Regions from separate parts of the Homo sapiens genome. Here region 2 is linked to region 1. The links come from fine-mapping of genetic effects on gene expression. A gene starts in region 1. The other region holds a variant in brackets. All regions are shown on one strand. Distances are between the middles of the regions. Region 1 holds the start of AKT1 (AKT serine/threonine kinase 1). Region 2 overlaps AKT1 (AKT serine/threonine kinase 1).

What was found.
Region 2: its variant is fine-mapped to the expression of AKT1 in thyroid (GTEx, PIP above 0.99).

What each region holds. Positions count from the first base shown.
Region 1 is chr14:104,791,620-104,799,870 of GRCh38, forward strand. AKT1 (AKT serine/threonine kinase 1) reads right to left here and starts at 4,129. Exons shown (of 15, transcript NM_001382430.1): 1 at 3,865-4,129; 2 at 1,508-1,685; 3 at 979-1,103. The coding sequence starts at 1,024. RefSeq lists enhancers at 31-672, 1,313-1,954, 1,955-2,594, 2,595-3,236, 5,278-6,050 and 1 more and silencers at 3,501-3,820, 3,851-3,900, 4,081-4,440.
Region 2 is chr14:104,770,007-104,778,288 of GRCh38, forward strand. It overlaps AKT1 (AKT serine/threonine kinase 1), which reads right to left. Exons shown (of 15, transcript NM_001382430.1): 5 at 6,653-6,764; 6 at 5,646-5,793; 7 at 5,070-5,201; 8 at 4,932-4,997; 9 at 3,906-3,974; 10 at 3,449-3,574; 11 at 3,245-3,373; 12 at 2,872-3,086; 13 at 2,359-2,446; 14 at 739-841; 15 at 1-414. The coding sequence ends at 335. Among named protein-coding and RNA genes, the nearest start is that of SIVA1, 21 kb to the left of the region's middle. The variant C/G (reference allele first, on the strand shown) is at 4,542.

The DNA of each region.
Region 1 (8,251 bases):
ACATCCCACAATGCCCCATCTTGTGACACCTACTTTTGCCACACCTCCCTGTCTGCTCCAGCTGTGTTTGGGGTCTCCCCACTACCAGATGTGAAACCCATCTGCTAGAGGGTGTACGTAAAGCCGGGGGGCTGCTGGCATGAGATCACTAGAACTTAGGAGGGAACAAGTCTGGAAAAAGAAGTCAGGAGAGGGCGGACCGATTCCGCCTGGGGCAGAAGAGAGTGACTTGGCCAGAGGACCTGGACCTGAACAGGAAGCCCACCCTAGCAGGACAGAGGAGCAAAACAGCCACCCAGACTCCACCGCACCCCGCTGAGCAACGGAGGGTGGGTGAGGCAGAAGGGCCTGCACAGGGTTGGAAGGGGTGGGGCTATGTCCCCAGCTCCCATCCCACCCAGCTGCTGGCCAGGCCCCTCGGGCAGCACCTCCTCCATAGGCTGCAAGGCCAAATGAGTGAGGAGGGGGACACAGGGGCTGGGGGACTTGGCTCAGCCAGCTCTGCAGCTCCAAGGCAAACATGCCCTGTGCCCAGGCGGTACGGATTCCCCCCACCCCCAAAGCTCAGGCCTGAAGCAGGCACCAGGCCAAGCCAAGCAGCCCTGCCCTGCCCTCAGGAGCCCTTGGGCAGTGCCCTGGGCCGCCAGCGTGCCAGACCCTGGAACAGCCCAGTGTCCTCGCTGCCTTCCAGGAAAGCCAGGAGAGAGGCTGGCAGCAGCTCCCCCGCCTGCCAGGGCCCACACCAGGAAGCCACTCAGATGGCCGGCCCTGCACAGGGCCTCATCCTCCTGGCCTCCCCGAGGCCGTGCCCTCCATGCCATGGGAAGACATGGGGCCCAGGACACTCACCCTAGGCCAGCCCAGGAGCCCCAGGGGAGGCAGCCCCTCCCACCCAGCAGGGCACAGGCACTCACAGACCCTGGGGCTACTACCCCCATCTCTCCCTCCCCAGGCCCAGCCCTGGCAGCGGGTACTAACCTCGTTTGTGCAGCCAACCCTCCTTCACAATAGCCACGTCGCTCATGGTGCCCGAGGCTCCCGCGACGCTCACGCGCTCCTCTCAGGCTGGCGCTCCCCGAGCCCAGCTGGCCTGGCCACAGCCTCTGGGAGAAGCAAAGGAAGCTGAATGTGAGGCCACGCCTGGCTAAGGGCAGCTCCTCGCCCTGGGTGAGCCAGAGACCCACTGCACGTGCCTGGGGGCTCCACCCGCACCTGCCTTCCCAGGTGGGCTGCCATCCCTCTAAGCTCTCTGACCCCCATCTGCCCGCCTGCCTTCCCTCTCCCCAAAACACTCAGGGCTGCCAAGTGTCAAATCCATGTAATTGAACACAGTTCCCTGGACCTGGGCCTCTCCTTATTCTAGGCTTAGAGCCTCCAGCCCCTGCCACCACCACCCGCAACAGCCAGGCCCTGAGAGCTGCTGCCTTGCTCACCTCCCCATTCCCACCTCCCCCAGCCGTTGGACAAATCACCCCCATCCCCAAAAGGCCTTCCCAGCCTCCCTAACCTGATGCACCAGCTGACAGGCTGCCTCCTCCAGGCAGCCCCTTTGACTTCTTTGACCCAGGCTGGCTCGGCCTTCCCTAAGCCCCTGGTGACAGATGGCCCCGTTTGCTCTCCCTGTCCATGGTGTTCCTACCCATGGATCCTGGGACAGGGCACAGGGCTCCTCCCTGCTCCCCAGACTAGGAAAGCAAAGAAATTCAAACATGAGGAAGACAGGACCAGGATGCAGGCCACTGGCGCAAACGGGAGTCCAGAGCCCTCCAGCGCAAGCCCAAAAACCTCCTGGGAGAAACCCCAGGCCCCTCCTAAACCACAGCGCCCCTGCCGGTCTGAATCTGGTTCATTCATTTGGCCAACATGTACCGGGCGTCTCAGGTTTTGCCAGGCCCAGTGCTGGGCGCTGGAGACAAAGAGAGGTTCAGACAAGTCCGTCAGTGAGGAGCACCCAGTCCAGGGTGGTTACAGACCCATAATTACAGCAGTCGGGAGGCAGCAAGTAAGTGGGGGAGCACTGGACAGGCCCCCGCCCTGCAGCGGCCCACCAGCCAACCCTCACCTGAGCACACTTTATCCATTGATCCTGCATGGCTTCCTCATTTCCCCTCTGATGGATGAACTCCTAGGCATCCCTCAAAACCCAGTTCCCACATCACCAACTACAGGCATCCCCAGAAAGAGCACTTCGCATGCTCTTCCTGTGAGCAGTCCTCTGCTACCCTTCCAGATGGGCCTTCCTGAGGGGAGGAGGGTCCTCTCTGGGACCTCCAGGCCAGGCAGAGACCCCTGACGACCTCTGTGGAATGGATCCCAACATGGGTCTTTCCACAGCCAGCTTAGACGCTCTCCCCCCAGGCCACCTTTCTGGCCTCCCGAGGCAAGGGCTGGACACCCACAAAGGGTTGCTTTGCACTGATTGTCTTAAGCTACACTTAGAATGGCAGGAAGGCCCACTGCCTTGTGTCTAATGCCAGGACAGGGAAGACCACACCTTACCCAAAGAGGGAAATGCCCCAAGTACTTAGCAGGATGGAAAGCAGGCCAGACTCGAGGAAGGCACCGCAGGACTCCGAGGGCAGGGCTCCGAGCCGCGCACGCCTCAGGCACAGGGGGCTCTGACGACACTGAGTGGGCGTGGCCTGGAGGCAGAGGGCTGGACTCAAAGACCTCTGGATGTCCCCCCACCCCCACACGGGCCTGAGCCCCTCCAAGGCCTGCTGCTGACAGAGTCAGACAGCTGTCCAGAGCCATGTGTAAAAATACATCTGTGCTCACACAGGGTGGTGTACGTCTGCACAGAAACGTATACACCAGGCCAGCACAGGGCTGCCTGTGGGGGCGGAGGGACCCCGACTTCCCACAGCCTCCGTACCTGCCGCCTGCCTTTACCATAAGCACATATTCTTGCTACTATTATTAAGTCACAACTTAAAAAAAAATACTCTGTTTTCGAAAGGGCTCCTCCATCTGCCTCCAGAACCCTGGTGTATGAGAAGTCTACACAGCTCCCGGGAGAGGCAACCGGACCCCCACCAACGGACTCCGTCCGCCCTTCGCTCGGATGAGGGACTCAAAGCAGTCAAGAAGTGGCCACCTGGAGCAAGGCCGAGAGACCCAGGAGTGAATGTGGGGCGGCCTCTGGCTGCAGAGCAGGGGCCCAAGCTCACCCGCTGACCAAGGCAGCACTCAGAGGCCGTCCCGACAGGACCAAGCTCGCTAGCGCCCCAGGATACTCAATCTAAGGGGCAAGCCCCAGCTGCCCTCCAAGCCTTGGCCTCTGGGATGGGCGGGCAGGACCTCCAGGGCCCACCCAAGACAGGAAGCAGTTCCGGGGCCCAGGAGGGTCACAGTCCTTTGTGGCTAGCCTGGGTACCCCGCCACCACGTACAACTTTTCGTCCGTGGGAAACGAAGTCTCCTTCCGGGGCCCTCCCACAAACTTGAAGGCCGGCCGCGGCGAGTCTTTCTCCAACCCCGGGGCACCTCCGCCGGCTGCCTCGCTGGCCCAGCGCCCGGGGAGCCCCACGGCCCGCAGGGGCACCCCGAGCCCCAGCTCCAGGCCCGGCGGCGTCCCTTCTCTCGGGTCCCGGCCTCGCCCGGCGGAGCGGCCTCCCCAAGGTCATGAGGGAGGCTGGGGCCGGCAGCCTGCACCCCCGGCGCCCGGCGTGGGGCCGCCCTCCCTTGGCCGGGCCCGCGCGCCCCGCGCCCTCCCCGCCCAGGCCCGCTCGGCCACTTCCTGCTCCCGCTCCTCCATTCTGGCGGCGCCGCGGCTCGCGCCCCGGCCCGACCGGCCGCGAACAAAGCGGCCCGGCCCGCGGGGAGGAAATCCAGGCCCGGGCGGCCACGGCGGGCGGGGACTCACCGGGCCGCCGCGTCCGGGCGCGAGCGCGGGCCTAGCCGGGCCGCGGCCTCCGGCGCCCGCCGCTCCGCATCCCCGCGGGCCGGCGCTGGGCGGGGCCGGGCTGGAGGCCGCGGCGGGCGGGGGCGCTGCTCGGGGCCGGGCCTCGCGTGCCGCCGCCGCTCGGTGCCCGGTGCCCAGCGCTCGGTGCTCGGCCGCCTGCTCCCGTCTTCGGGCCGCGCTGCGTGCGCTGGGCCAGCCGCCTGCCGCGCTCGGTCCTGCCGCCGCCGCCGGCCCGCCCTCTCCCCGCCCCGCGCCCGCCCCGCGCCCGGAGCCGCCCGCCCACATCCGCCTCCGCCGCCCGGGGCGTCCCCACCGCGCGGCCGGCGGCGAGGGCGGAGCGCGCTCGGGGAGCGCGCGGCCGGGCTGAGGGGCAGCTCCCGACGACCTGGGGCCTGGGCTGGGCCGCTAACGGAGCCCGGCCACCAGCCAGCCCGTCCCGGGGCCACGCCCTCTCTGGCCTCAGTTTCCCCGTCTGTAAAGTGACCCGGCGCTTCTGGGCTCGCTCTGCCGTGACCCTAGCAGAAGGGGCCCGAGACAGGTCAGGGACGAATCCCGGACTTCTGCCTCCGCGCGCGGGGCGGGGGTGGCTTAGGTTGACTTTCAGGCTGCCCCACTCTGGGGGGCGTGGAGGGGGCGGCCAAGAGTGACCTAAAAGGCCCAATCCCAAGACCTTGTGCCTCTGGGGGAAGTGCGGGAGGATGCCAGGACAGGAGGTCAGTTGGAGGTGGGCCTCCAAGGAGCAGGAAGGCTCCGAGGGGAGTCAACCATTCACCTAGGTACTGGCAGCTACACTCACAAAAGGGGGACTTTGCTGGGGAGTGGGAGAAGAGGGGCACACCTTGCCTGGCTCCCACCTTGAGCTGGGAGCAGACACCAGACAGAGGAGGAGCGGTGTCTAGGGTGGGCTGTGACAGCTGACAGCCCAGAGCCCTCCCTGCTGGGTGGACTTGGTCAGCCCGGACACCCAGTCCGAAGTCCACTGGGAGGCAGATGGCCCGGGTATGGAATGAGTAAGTGGGACACAGACCCCTTTCTCCTGGACACTCACAGGAGAGTGCAGGTGACTGCCACCCCGACCCCTTCCTAGCCAGAAGTTCCTCCGACAACTGCCCCTCCCCCATTCCAGAGGCCCACAGTTGATAATAACCCTTTTGTGAAAGACAGACTCTTGTGAGTTACCTTCCTGAGGCTGCTAAGTATTGGGGTTGGGGGAGCATTTTTATTTTCAGCCAGAGTGAGTTCAGCTGGCAGCAGGGGAGGGGGTGGGAGGAGATGCAGACAGAGGCAGCAGGTTCGGCCCAGTGCTCAGGACAGAGTCTGCAGCCAAAACTCGGGCTTCATCCCTGCCTCTTGGGGCTGACCAAGAGAAGGACTCTCTCCCCCTGCATGAGGGCACTCGCTCCTCAGACAGGGGACTCCCCATTCCTGCCTCTCGCCTGAGCACCTCTGCTCCCTCCCAGCTCAGACTTTGTAACCCCAGGAAGGGCCCACCTCCAGGGGGCCAAGTCAGAGGCCCAGTGGTCTGCGCCGCTTGGGTGGGATACCTGACACAAGGGTTGCCCCCAGAGCCTGGGCGTCTGGTGTCTGTCTCTCACCCAGCAAACCTGCACCATGAGCCACCTGGGGCTCCCTCTGGGACTGTCCCACCTGCCCACTGCTCCCCGAGGAAGAGTTCCTGGTATCTGTCCACCATCCTGGGCTCTGCCATGCAAGGATGGAGGAAGGAATTCAGGGAGGAAGCAGAGGGTAAGAGGGCCATGAGACAAGGCCAGCAAGTGGCCGAGGCTTGGGGATGTGGGAGGGAGCAGGGCACCCTCTCATGGAAGAGGCAGTGACATTGCGGGCTGTTCTTGAAGTGGTTGGACCTCTTGCTTATTTTGCACTGGCTGTCTCCAAGGAGGCCTCCCAGTCTTCCCAGCCTGGTGCCCTGGCATCTGCTGGTGCCTGCAACCCACTGTGGGCCCCACACTCCAGTCCTGTCTTCACCTTGGCATGAACTGCCCTCCCCCAAGACGGGGATCTCCCAGTGGGCAGGGCCATCTCCCTCTCCTCCAGCGTCCCAGAGGGAAAGCAGAGTCCTCTCTTCAAGAACACCCCCTCCCACCCCAGACAGAATGGTCAGGAGAGAACCCAGCCCCACGGCTGCTGCTGGGACTGCTGAGGTGCTCTGTGGCCAGATGTTTCCGACAAAAACTGCTGCACCAGGGAAGGGCCCGACGGCTGCCTCCTCCCAGAGCTCAGGGGCCTCCTGCCCTGTCACCTTCTGCAGCTGCTGGCCGGGGGCAGGACTCGAGGGCCCTGGGCTGTGTAGGTCCCAGCAGCAGCTGCAGGGCGGGGCCTCAGGGCAGCTCCCAGGCCAGATGGCCGCCTGAGTCTGCAGAGGTTCTGCCTGAACCACCACCGCCGCGACAGTGGCTGTGTGACGGTGTCCTGTCATTCCTGCACTTGAGACCCAGCCAGTCACAGGGGCTCTGAGGACTACAGGCTGGCCAGGATCCCAGCACCAACTCTGGGCGGTCTCTGCCTGGAACAGCCCCCCTTCCCTGATCGGTGTGGGGCAGGAGGGACTTGAACCCAGACATCCCGACCTGAGAGGGATAAGGAGCTTCTCTCCCACTGTCCCCTCCCCTTCATCTAGCCCATTCCTAGCTGGGCCCTCCTTCCAGGTCCTACCCTAGGCTCCTGAAGGCAGCATCCTGACCCTCCCTGTGTACCACAACCCCCATTAAGTGTCCAGGCTCTCTCTGTCCCGCCAGCCAGGCAGGGCAGGCTAGGGTGCTTGCTCCCAGCCTGCAGTGGGGAGCTGTCAGCCTGTTGCCCAGAGCCCCAGTGTGGCAGGCCACCCCTACTTGCTCTGAAGGTTCAGGGGCTGGGGGTGTGGGCAGGCAGGGCTGGAATGTTGCCACAGAGGAGTCAGGATTAGGGATGGTGGGACCATCGTAATCACTCACAGAAGCAACCGTCACACATTCACTCAACAAACATTTACTGAACACCCACTTGCGTCCTGCCAACTTTTAAGCACCAAGTGACCAAACAGCCCCTTCCCTTTCAGAAGGTGCTGGAATATCCCACAATCACAGGACACCCGGAATGGGCTGGAAAGGAGGGTATGCAGCAGAAGGGACTGCGAGGGAACTTAGCGAAGGTGGGCAGGAATGGCCACCCTGACTAAGGAGTGGACTTTCAGCAGAGACAGGGATGAAGAGAAACCAGTGAAGGGTTCTTTGGGGAAGAACATTCCAGAGCCTGAGAGCTTGCTGAGTGCCAGGCCCTGTCGTTAATGTTCACGAAGACCCCGGGATGCACTCTGACTCCCATTTTGCAGATGAGGATTACTGAGGTTCAAAGAGGTTAAAGGTTTGGTCGTGCTCAAGGTTGGGAGGGGCCGGGGCAGGGCTGTGATCCAGGCAGGGCAGGAAGGGAGCAGTCACATCTGAGTTCACCCTTAACTTACTTGAATTCAGCTATTCCTGCTGGTGGCTGGGGCAAGGCAGATGATTATTTAAATGCGTGGAGAGAGGGGAGTTGACCTTCCTCAGGAAGGGGTCCTTAGGGTGGATGGCCGGCGGCAGTGGGAGCCAGGCCTCTGCCGTCCCTAAGCTAGTCTCAGTGGCTGTAAGTGCAGTGTCATTCCAGGGGTCCAAGCTGCAGTTGCCAGGTTTAGGAAATAAAGATGCAGTCCATCCGGTGAAACAAGGAATGATATTTTAGTATAACAACGAGGCCTTCCTTCCCAGACTTCAGATCCCACTGTGGGCTCCACTCCTCCTGCACACACATACCTGGCCGGGTCCTGTCCTTTGTGATCCAGCCCCTCTTCCAGCACCACCCCCACCCCACTGCTTGGCCTTGACTGGGGTGACTCCTCCACTACATTCTCCATTTCCCGGACTCCAAGGCAGAGAAGAATGAGACCGGCTGAATTCAAATCGTGGTTCAGTGACTTACTGCCTGATACATGGCTCTGGGTACCTTACCTAAACTCTCTCACCAAAAAGGTATGAAAATAAGAGCGTCTAGTTAATGGGACTGTTGTGAAGATGATCCGGTGGTCTAGAGTACCTTCAAACCTGCTCAGTCAAGGGCAGCCCAGGTTGTGCCCCTGGGAAAAGGCTCCATCTGCCTGGGAGGGACCCTAACCCCGCCAAACACACTCTCTACTTCTCTGGCGATTCCCTCTCCCACAACCAGGCGTCCCCCTCACATCTTCTCAATGCTTCTTTGCCCTAGAACACTTTCCCCCACTCCTCCCTACCCCCACTCCCATGCCAGCCCCTGTCCGGAGTCTCCTCCTCTTTGAACACGTTCCTGCCTACCCTGGGCTCTGGAGGGCTTCCGACTGTCT
Region 2 (8,282 bases), 22 kb before region 1:
CAGGACCTGCCCGGCCCCCCAATGCCACATTGCGCATAGCTGCAGAAGTCCTTAACATTTCCCTACGTGAATCGGATTGTTCTGAGGGCTGAGGCCACACCCGGAGAACAAACTGGATGAAATAAATTAAAACCCGCAGGATAGTTTTCTTCCCTACCCCGCTGCGGGGGAGGGTGCTGCCCACAGCACAAAAACGTCTTTCCATCTGGGCTCGAGAGGACAGCGTGGCTTCTCTCAAATGCACCCGAGAAATAAAAACCATTAAATACAGATCATGGCACGAGGCCGCCTCTCCATCCCTCCAAGCTATCGTCCAGCGCAGTCCACCGCCGCCTCAGGCCGTGCCGCTGGCCGAGTAGGAGAACTGGGGGAAGTGGGGCCTGCGCTCGCTGTCCACACACTCCATGCTGTCATCTGTGGGTGTAGACAGCTCAGACCCCGGTGCCCCACCTCCCTGCCACCTCCACCCACCCACAGCTCCAGTAGGAAGCCAACCTCTTAAAGCACGGCCAGCACGCTGCCATACTGCCAGGAAACTGAGACAGGGCCCCACAGATTGACACAGGGACCTGGGCCCTCAGAGCACTGCCTCCCACCCTGATCATTGGCACTCTCCAAAAGGAACCTTTTTAAATATTTAGATTTTAAAACATCTGAAGCCAAAAAAGCTGAACACTGCAGGCCTCTCTGAGTGTGGAGAGAAAAGGGAGTGGGCGGGGGCAGGCAGTGGCCCCTCACCTTGGTCAGGTGGTGTGATGGTGATCATCTGGGCCGTGAACTCCTCATCAAAATACCTGGTGTCAGTCTCCGACGTGACCTGGGGCTTGAAGGGTGGGCTGAGCTGCAGAGGTGGGCAGACGGGACAGTCATGAGCTTCGCTCCCCACTCCCAGCACACCCTCAAGTGTGCTCAAGACCTTCAAAGCACCTGGATCTCCAAGGGGTCTCCAGGCAGGACTGATGTCAGAGAGCAGCAAGCCACCAGCCCCCCACAGAGGCAGCTCTGGGAGGGAGGGACATGAGGGGTGCAGGAGCACGGAGACAACCCTCAACAGCTGAGACGCAAAGCTGCCCTCACAGCAGCCCCAGCAGGCGACAGGAGGTAGTGCAGCCCAGCTCTGAGAGACCCTCCCTGCTACCAGGAGGTGATAACTTTATTTTTCCTTTTTCTTTCTTGTTTTCTTATTTTTCTTATTGGTCTTCTTGTAAATTGGGAAAGAGGGAGACTGTGGAACAAGGTGCACAGGATGAGCCCACCCTGCCTCCATGGCTCAGGGACTACAGGACCACAGCCTGCTGGCATCTGGCTGCAGACAGGACTCTCAATGACCCAGGATGAAGGGTGACTATAAGGTGATGTGCACACGTGAGGAGCTGCCAGAGAGCCCCTCAGGTCCCACAGTCAAGGACCCCCTCAAGCACTGCCCCACCCCAGAGTCTGGGCTGGGCACCAGCATTGTCCATTGTCAATTAGCAAGGTCTCTGGTCAAGGCTGGGCAGAGGTTGAGCACTGCCCAGGCCCCCCATACCCTTGGAGGGCAGGGCAGGAGGGTGGCAGGCCTCAAGGCAGGAACGGGGACCAGGACCAGGGCACCCTGTGTTAATGGGAGAACAGGTGCCCAGCTGGGTCCCAGGGCTGCCCAGCCCGACCAGCTGCACACAGCCTAGGACAGGCATTCAGGGGAGGGGCAGGCTGGGAACGGGGCAGAAGCACACCTGGTGACAGGGCACCCAGCATCTCAGAGTGCAGGCTTCCGAACCCAGCTGGCAGACCCCATCAGCTGGGGTGATGGCCAGGGCTCCTAGGGTCCCTGAAAGATGAGCACCCAGGATGGCGACTCATGCAGAAAGAGCTGCCTCCCTCCAGGGCGGACTCCCCCATGTGCCAGAAAAGTAGGTGCTGTCCCTGTCCCTGCACAGCCAGAAATAGGGCTGGGCTCTCCTTGCGGCAGAAGGGATTGAGGTCAAACAGGAGGAACTCGTGGAGGCCAAGGGGCAGCACCCCTGGTCCACCACCAGCCAGCCTTCACTGCACAGCGTCAGGGAAGGGAACCCCAAGGCTGGCACTCAGAGTGTGACACACCTCCGAGGGGAGGAGGAAACTCAGAGTGTGACACACCTCCGAGGGGAGGAGGAAATGAGGACCAGGCCAGTTTCCTGGTGGAACCCGGCAGTGCCAGAGCCTCTGAGCACCAGGCGCTGAGGTTGGTGCAGCAAGGCCCTCCTTGTACCAGGACTGCAGCAGGCTCCTGAGGTGAGGGCGAGTGTGTGGGAAATCTGGCGAGCGTGCCACGTGCATGCGTGAGTGTGGATATGTGGGGAGCATGCGTGCGCGTGAATATGCGGGGAGCAGCCGCACCTTCTTCTCGTACACGTGCTGCCACACGATACCGGCAAAGAAGCGATGCTGCATGATCTCCTTGGCGTCCTCGGAGCCCCCGCCAAGCCTGCAGGCAGGAAACAAGGCCACAGTGTCGGTACCGCCACCTGCCCAGGCCCTGGGTTCAGGCCCCTTCCTCCTGTGATGTAGGGCCCGCCAGACAGGACGTTCCGGGGCCAGGGAGGGGAGCCGGTGGTGCAGCGTCCCTGAGCAGCTGTGGGTAGCAAAGCACCACAGAGCTCACGGCAGGGCAGGGGCTTCCTGAGTGGGTGGGTGCAGGCTGCAGGGTTGGGGACAGAGGCCCAACTGACCCCGGCCTGCCCGCCACTCTGCTTGGGCCTGAGGCTTTGGAGATCAGCCCTGGCCAAGGACATCAAGCTTTGGCTATCAGTGTAGTCTGGGAGGTGCCAGGACCGCCTGGCGCAGGGGCAGGTGCAGCCTGGGGATGAGGGGATGGAGGTGTAGCCTGTAGCTGGGATGGGCGGCCCTCACCTCTGCTTGGGGTCCTTCTTGAGCAGCCCTGAAAGCAAGGACTTGGCCTCGGGACCAAGCGTGCGCGGGAAGCGGATCTCCTCCATGAGGATGAGCTCAAAAAGCTTCTCATGGTCCTGGTTGTAGAAGGGCAGGCGACCGCACATCATCTCGTACATGACCACGCCCAGCCCCCACCAGTCCACTGCACGGCCGTAGTCATTGTCCTCCAGCACCTGCACGGGTGGCAGATGGGCAGGACTCGGCATCAAGGGGTGTCCGGGACACTGCCGGGGGAGGTGTGACGTGCTTGGGGCACAGAGAGGACACAGCATTGCGTGTGCTCAGGACGTGGGGACGCAGCAACGCGTATGCACGCAGGTGGGGCGCACACCTCGGGGGCCAGGTACTCAGGTGTGCCGCAAAAGGTCTTCATGGTGGCACCGTCCTTGATCCCCTCCTTGCACAGCCCGAAGTCTGTGATCTTAATGTGCCCGTCCTTGTCCAGCATGAGGTTCTCCAGCTAGGGGAAAGGTGGCCTCAGGTCAGTGCCGCCAGGCCCCCAGGGCCCTGCCCCCCTGCCTGCCCGCCAGCGCACCTTGAGGTCCCGGTACACCACGTTCTTCTCCGAGTGCAGGTAGTCCAGGGCTGACACAATCTCAGCGCCATAGAAGCGGGCCCGGTCCTCGGAGAACACACGCTCCCGGGACAGGTGGAAGAACAGCTGCGGGAGGCGCAACCTGAGGCACAGCCGTGGCTCGGGCCTCTGCCCCCATGGCCTGCAGGGCTGGGGTTTCTCAGACCGGGTCTCGGCATTGCACAGGGAAGGGACCAGCCACCAGAGGGCACGGGGGCCTGGAAAGTCTCAGAAGCCCTAACTCAGCAGGAACAAGTCACCCCACAGCAGGCAGCTGCCTGGGCAGGCATCACACCACCCACCCAGCAGGGAGCACCGTCTGGTGCCATGGAGAGTAGCCGAGGCTCCGGGAAGGACCGGCCCCACCATGGGCGGCCCACAGGCCGCGAAGTCCATCCCCCGCAGCCCCAGCCCCTACCTCGCCCCCGTTGGCGTACTCCATGACAAAGCAGAGGCGGTCGTGGGTCTGGAAAGAGTACTTCAGGGCCTGCAAGGAAGGGGAGCTGGAACTGCGGCCCCACAGGCAGGACGGCAGCCCCGCACCACGCTGCCCGACACCACGCTGCTTGATACCACGTCGCCTGATACCACACCGCCCGTAGCCCCACACCACACTGCCCGACACCACGCTGCCTGATACCACACCGCCCGATACCACACTGCCCCACACCACACACCCCATCACACTGCCCCACACCATACACCCCCACATCACACTGCCCCCATGCCACGCTGCCCCACACCACACTGCCCCACACCACACTGCCTCATGCCACGCCACCATCAGGCTGGGCCCCGGCAGCCCCTGAGGTGCCAAGGAGTGTTTGAAAGGTGAGCAAGGTGGCCTGGGCTCAGGTCCTCCAGGGTGAGTTGGGACCTCAGCAGGGGACAGTGCTCCCAGCACCAGGGCCTTCGCAAAGGGAGGACACACCCTCCCAGGCGAGACCCACCCTCCCGCCTTCCACCACAGGCGACTGTGCTTTTAAAGCAAAGGCCCCATCTGCAGGAGAATCGTCCCCAAACACAGTGACCTGGAACTAACCAAGTGGCTGGA[C/G]CCTGGCCCCCTTCACAGTAAATACCTCCTGGGCCAAGTCCCCAGAACAGGTTCTGCAGGACAGAGCCCGGGCCTCAACAAAAGCCTGGCAGGCAGGGCTGCAGGGCATGGGGAGCTGGGGCCTCCTGGAGCCTCGGCAGAGTGCAAGGAAGACCAGGGCCACCTGCCCCACCCACCTGCCCGCACACGGGAGCAGCGAGCACAGCCCCTAGCCCACACTGGGCACCTCCACAGCCTGACCCTCCAGGGCAGGCCTGTCTCACCAGCGGCGGAGTCCACGGTGTGTAAAGCCCTCACGTGCCCAAGAAGACAGGACATCGTCCCCTAGAGACAGCCCCAGGAGTCGCTACCTGGCCCCAGCCCTTCAGCCCCATCTGGGCTCCCACTCACTGTGAGGAAGGGGTGCCTGGAGTTCTGCAGGACGCGGTTCTCGGTGAGTGTGTGGGCCACCTCGTCCTGTAAAGCAGGGCTGGGTGAGCTGCCACCCCGCACCCTCATCTCCACCCTGCCCCACCGCCCCGGCCCCACCTTGGCCACGATGACTTCCTTCTTGAGGATCTTCATGGCGTAGTAGCGGCCTGTGGCCTTCTCCTTCACCAGGATCACCTTGCCGAAAGTGCCCTTGCCCAGCAGCTTCAGGTACTCAAACTCGTTCATGGTCTATGGGCAGGCACCAGGGTCAGCAAGCGGCGCTGCCAACAGTGCCCAGCTGGTCGGCATGCGTGGGGTGGCATGAGGGGCCCCAGAGTCGGAGGCAGAGCCAGGAGAGGCGTCCACTTCACACCTGGTGGCCTACTGGGCTCAGCGGGGAGTCCAGGCTTACAGGGAACACATGGCTGCGGCCCCAGCTCAGAGCATGGGGTTCAGGGAAGGGTGGGGTAACATTGCCCAAGCCTGGCAGGGCTCAGCAACCCCAGTTTTCCTCTGACATGGGGAAGAGGACCCACCTGGGAAGCAGCTGCGCCCTACATGGAAAACCGGCCTAGGTGGAGATGCCGTGGAGTGCTGAGTGTCTCCTGGGCCGAGCTGGGACCCCATGACCCACCCAGCCCTCCACAGTCCAAGGCAGCCCCAGGCACAGGCAGAAGTGGGGACAGGCCTCACCACGCGGTGCTTGGGCTTGGCCAGGGACACCTCCATCTCTTCAGCCCCTGAGTTGTCACTGGGTGAGCCCGACCGGAAGTCCATCTCCTCCTCCTCCTGCTTCTTGAGGCCGTCAGCCACAGTCTGGATGGCGGTTGTCCACTCCTCCCTGCAGGAGGTCAGGTGAGGCTGCAGGCCTGTACCAGATCAGGAGCTCCACCCCACGTCTTTCACCCACCCGCCAGCCTCACAAGCGTGGTTCCACAGCTGTCGGGGTTCCCAGAGACAGCCCTGAGGAGGCCACCACTTGACCTGGTCTGGCCACATACACTCAGGGTCACGAAGCCCTCTTGGACGTGGGGGACACCCAGGCTTAGCCCCCCAGCAGGACTCTGTCCCCACAACCGGACTCCAACCCCCAGCAGGACTCCGCCCCCCAGCAGGACTCCGCCCCCCCCAAGCAGGACTCCGCCTCCCAAGCAGGACTCCGCCCCCCAAGGAGGACTGGCCCTCTCCACCGGGTTTTTCTTTTTTTGAGACGGAGTCTTGCTCTATCGCCCTGGCTGGAGTGCAGTGGTAAAATCTCGGCTCCTGCAGCCTCTGCCTCTCGGGTTCAAGCGATTCTTGTGCCTCAGCCTCCCAAGTAGCCGGGATTACAGGTGTGCACCACCACACCCAGCTAAGTTTTATATTTTTAGTAGAGACGGGGGTTTCACCATGTTGGCAGGCTAGTCTCAAACTCCTGGTCTCAAGTGATCTGCGCACCTCGGCCTCCCAAAGTGCCGAGATTATAGACGTGAGCCACTGCACCCGGTCCCTAGCCAGTTTTTATCTCCAGCCTCAGTTTCCCCACCCAAACCCCACAGGCAGGACTGGGCCAGTTTCCAAACTGGGCTCTGAGGAGGGCCTGGGAGCACTGGGGAGTGAGGATGGCTACAGGCAGAGGTGCCAGCACCCCGCCATCCCCGTGTCCCTCCTAAGCGCTGGGGCTGCCCAAGTGCCTGGCCTGGCCGCCACAGCCCACGTACCGCTCCTCAGGAGTCTCCACATGGAAGGTGCGTTCGATGACAGTGGTCCACTGCAGGCAGCGGATGATGAAGGTGTTGGGCCGGGGCCGCTCCGTCTTCATCAGCTGGCACTCTGCGGGCAGGCAGAGCCTCTGTCTGCGTGCATCCCCCTGCCCCTCCCAGGGCCCTCACCACAGCCCCCGCTGCACCAGCCAGCTCCCCTTGCATACCACCCACCAGGTCCTGGGAAGCCCCATCTCTTCCTCTCTCCAAGCCTCAGTTTCTCGCCTCACAGAGTGGGGCTAGGACCCCTGTTCCAGCTCAGACACTCTACTCCAGGCTGAGGCAGCCACACAGGGCATCTGGCCCGGCGTCAGGTCAAACCCCCACCATCGTCCACTCCTACAGTCCTTCCTTCAGTCTCTGAGCCCCGCCGTGCGCCAGGCCTCAGAGGATGAGGGGTATGGAGATCCCACAGAGGGGCTGGCATGAGGGGGGCACCCCAGAAACCTGCTTGTCCCACCTAGTGTAGAAATGTCCTGCTTTTTTCCCAACCTCACCCTGAGTACCTGGGAAATACAGCCACCTGGAGCACACCCACACCTGGGGCACACCCACACCTGGGGCACAGGCACACCTGGGGCACAGCCACACCTGGGGCACAGGCACACCTGGGGCACAGCCACACCTGGGGCACACATACATCTGGGGCACACACACACTGGAGGCAAAGCCACACCTGGGGCACACGCACACCTGAGGCACACACCTGGGGCACACGCACACCTGGGACACAGCCACACTGGAATACACAGACATCTAGAACACATCTAGACACCTAGCCACATCTGGGGCACACGAACACCTGGGGCACACGCACACCTGGGGCACAGCCACACCTGGGGCACAAGCACACCTGGGGAACACATACCTGGGGCACAGCCACACCTACAGCACGTACACCCTGAGGGCTGTGGGAACGTGCGGGGCCCTGAGAGGTGTGAGTGAGTGGAGTGTGTAGCCGCTGGGGCTCCGTGGCAGGCTCTGGCCCAGCCTGTGCAAAGCAGGAGGAGGCTGAGGGGCCAGTGGGGGGCCTCTGACATTCCAGCATCGAGGCCCTGGCAACCACAAGGGGGCCTGGCCAGGCAGCAAGGAAGCTGTCTTCCAGGCCTGGGGGCCAGGAGGGGGCTCGGGACCAGCCTGGTGGGGAGGGTGGCCTGTGTCAACACAGGCCAGAGAAGTGGAAACCGGTGTGAAGCCCCGGCACACCCACCTCCCACTCGCTCCTGGATGGTCCGATCTGCCCCAGTATGCAATCCCCAGGGCCAGAGTCTCGAGCCCACTGCCCCGGAACCGTTCCCCGGAGAAAAGCCCCGGACAGAGGCCCAGCACAGCCCCTGGCCCCTGCCCAGCTCTGCTCCTTGGCCAGGCGCTCCAGGCCACTCACCTATGGCCTAATCTGAAGGCCCCAGCCTTGCCAGCTGCTCAGGCAACACCTCCAGCTGGTACCCACCCGTGTGCCTCTCCAGAGAGCTCCCCACCTCGTTCCTTCCCAATGCCTCGGCCTGGCGAGCACACCCACAGCACCCACCCCCAGCAAGGCCCTGTCCCAGGTGCCACCAGGCACGCTGCTGGCACCCAGCCTCTCCCT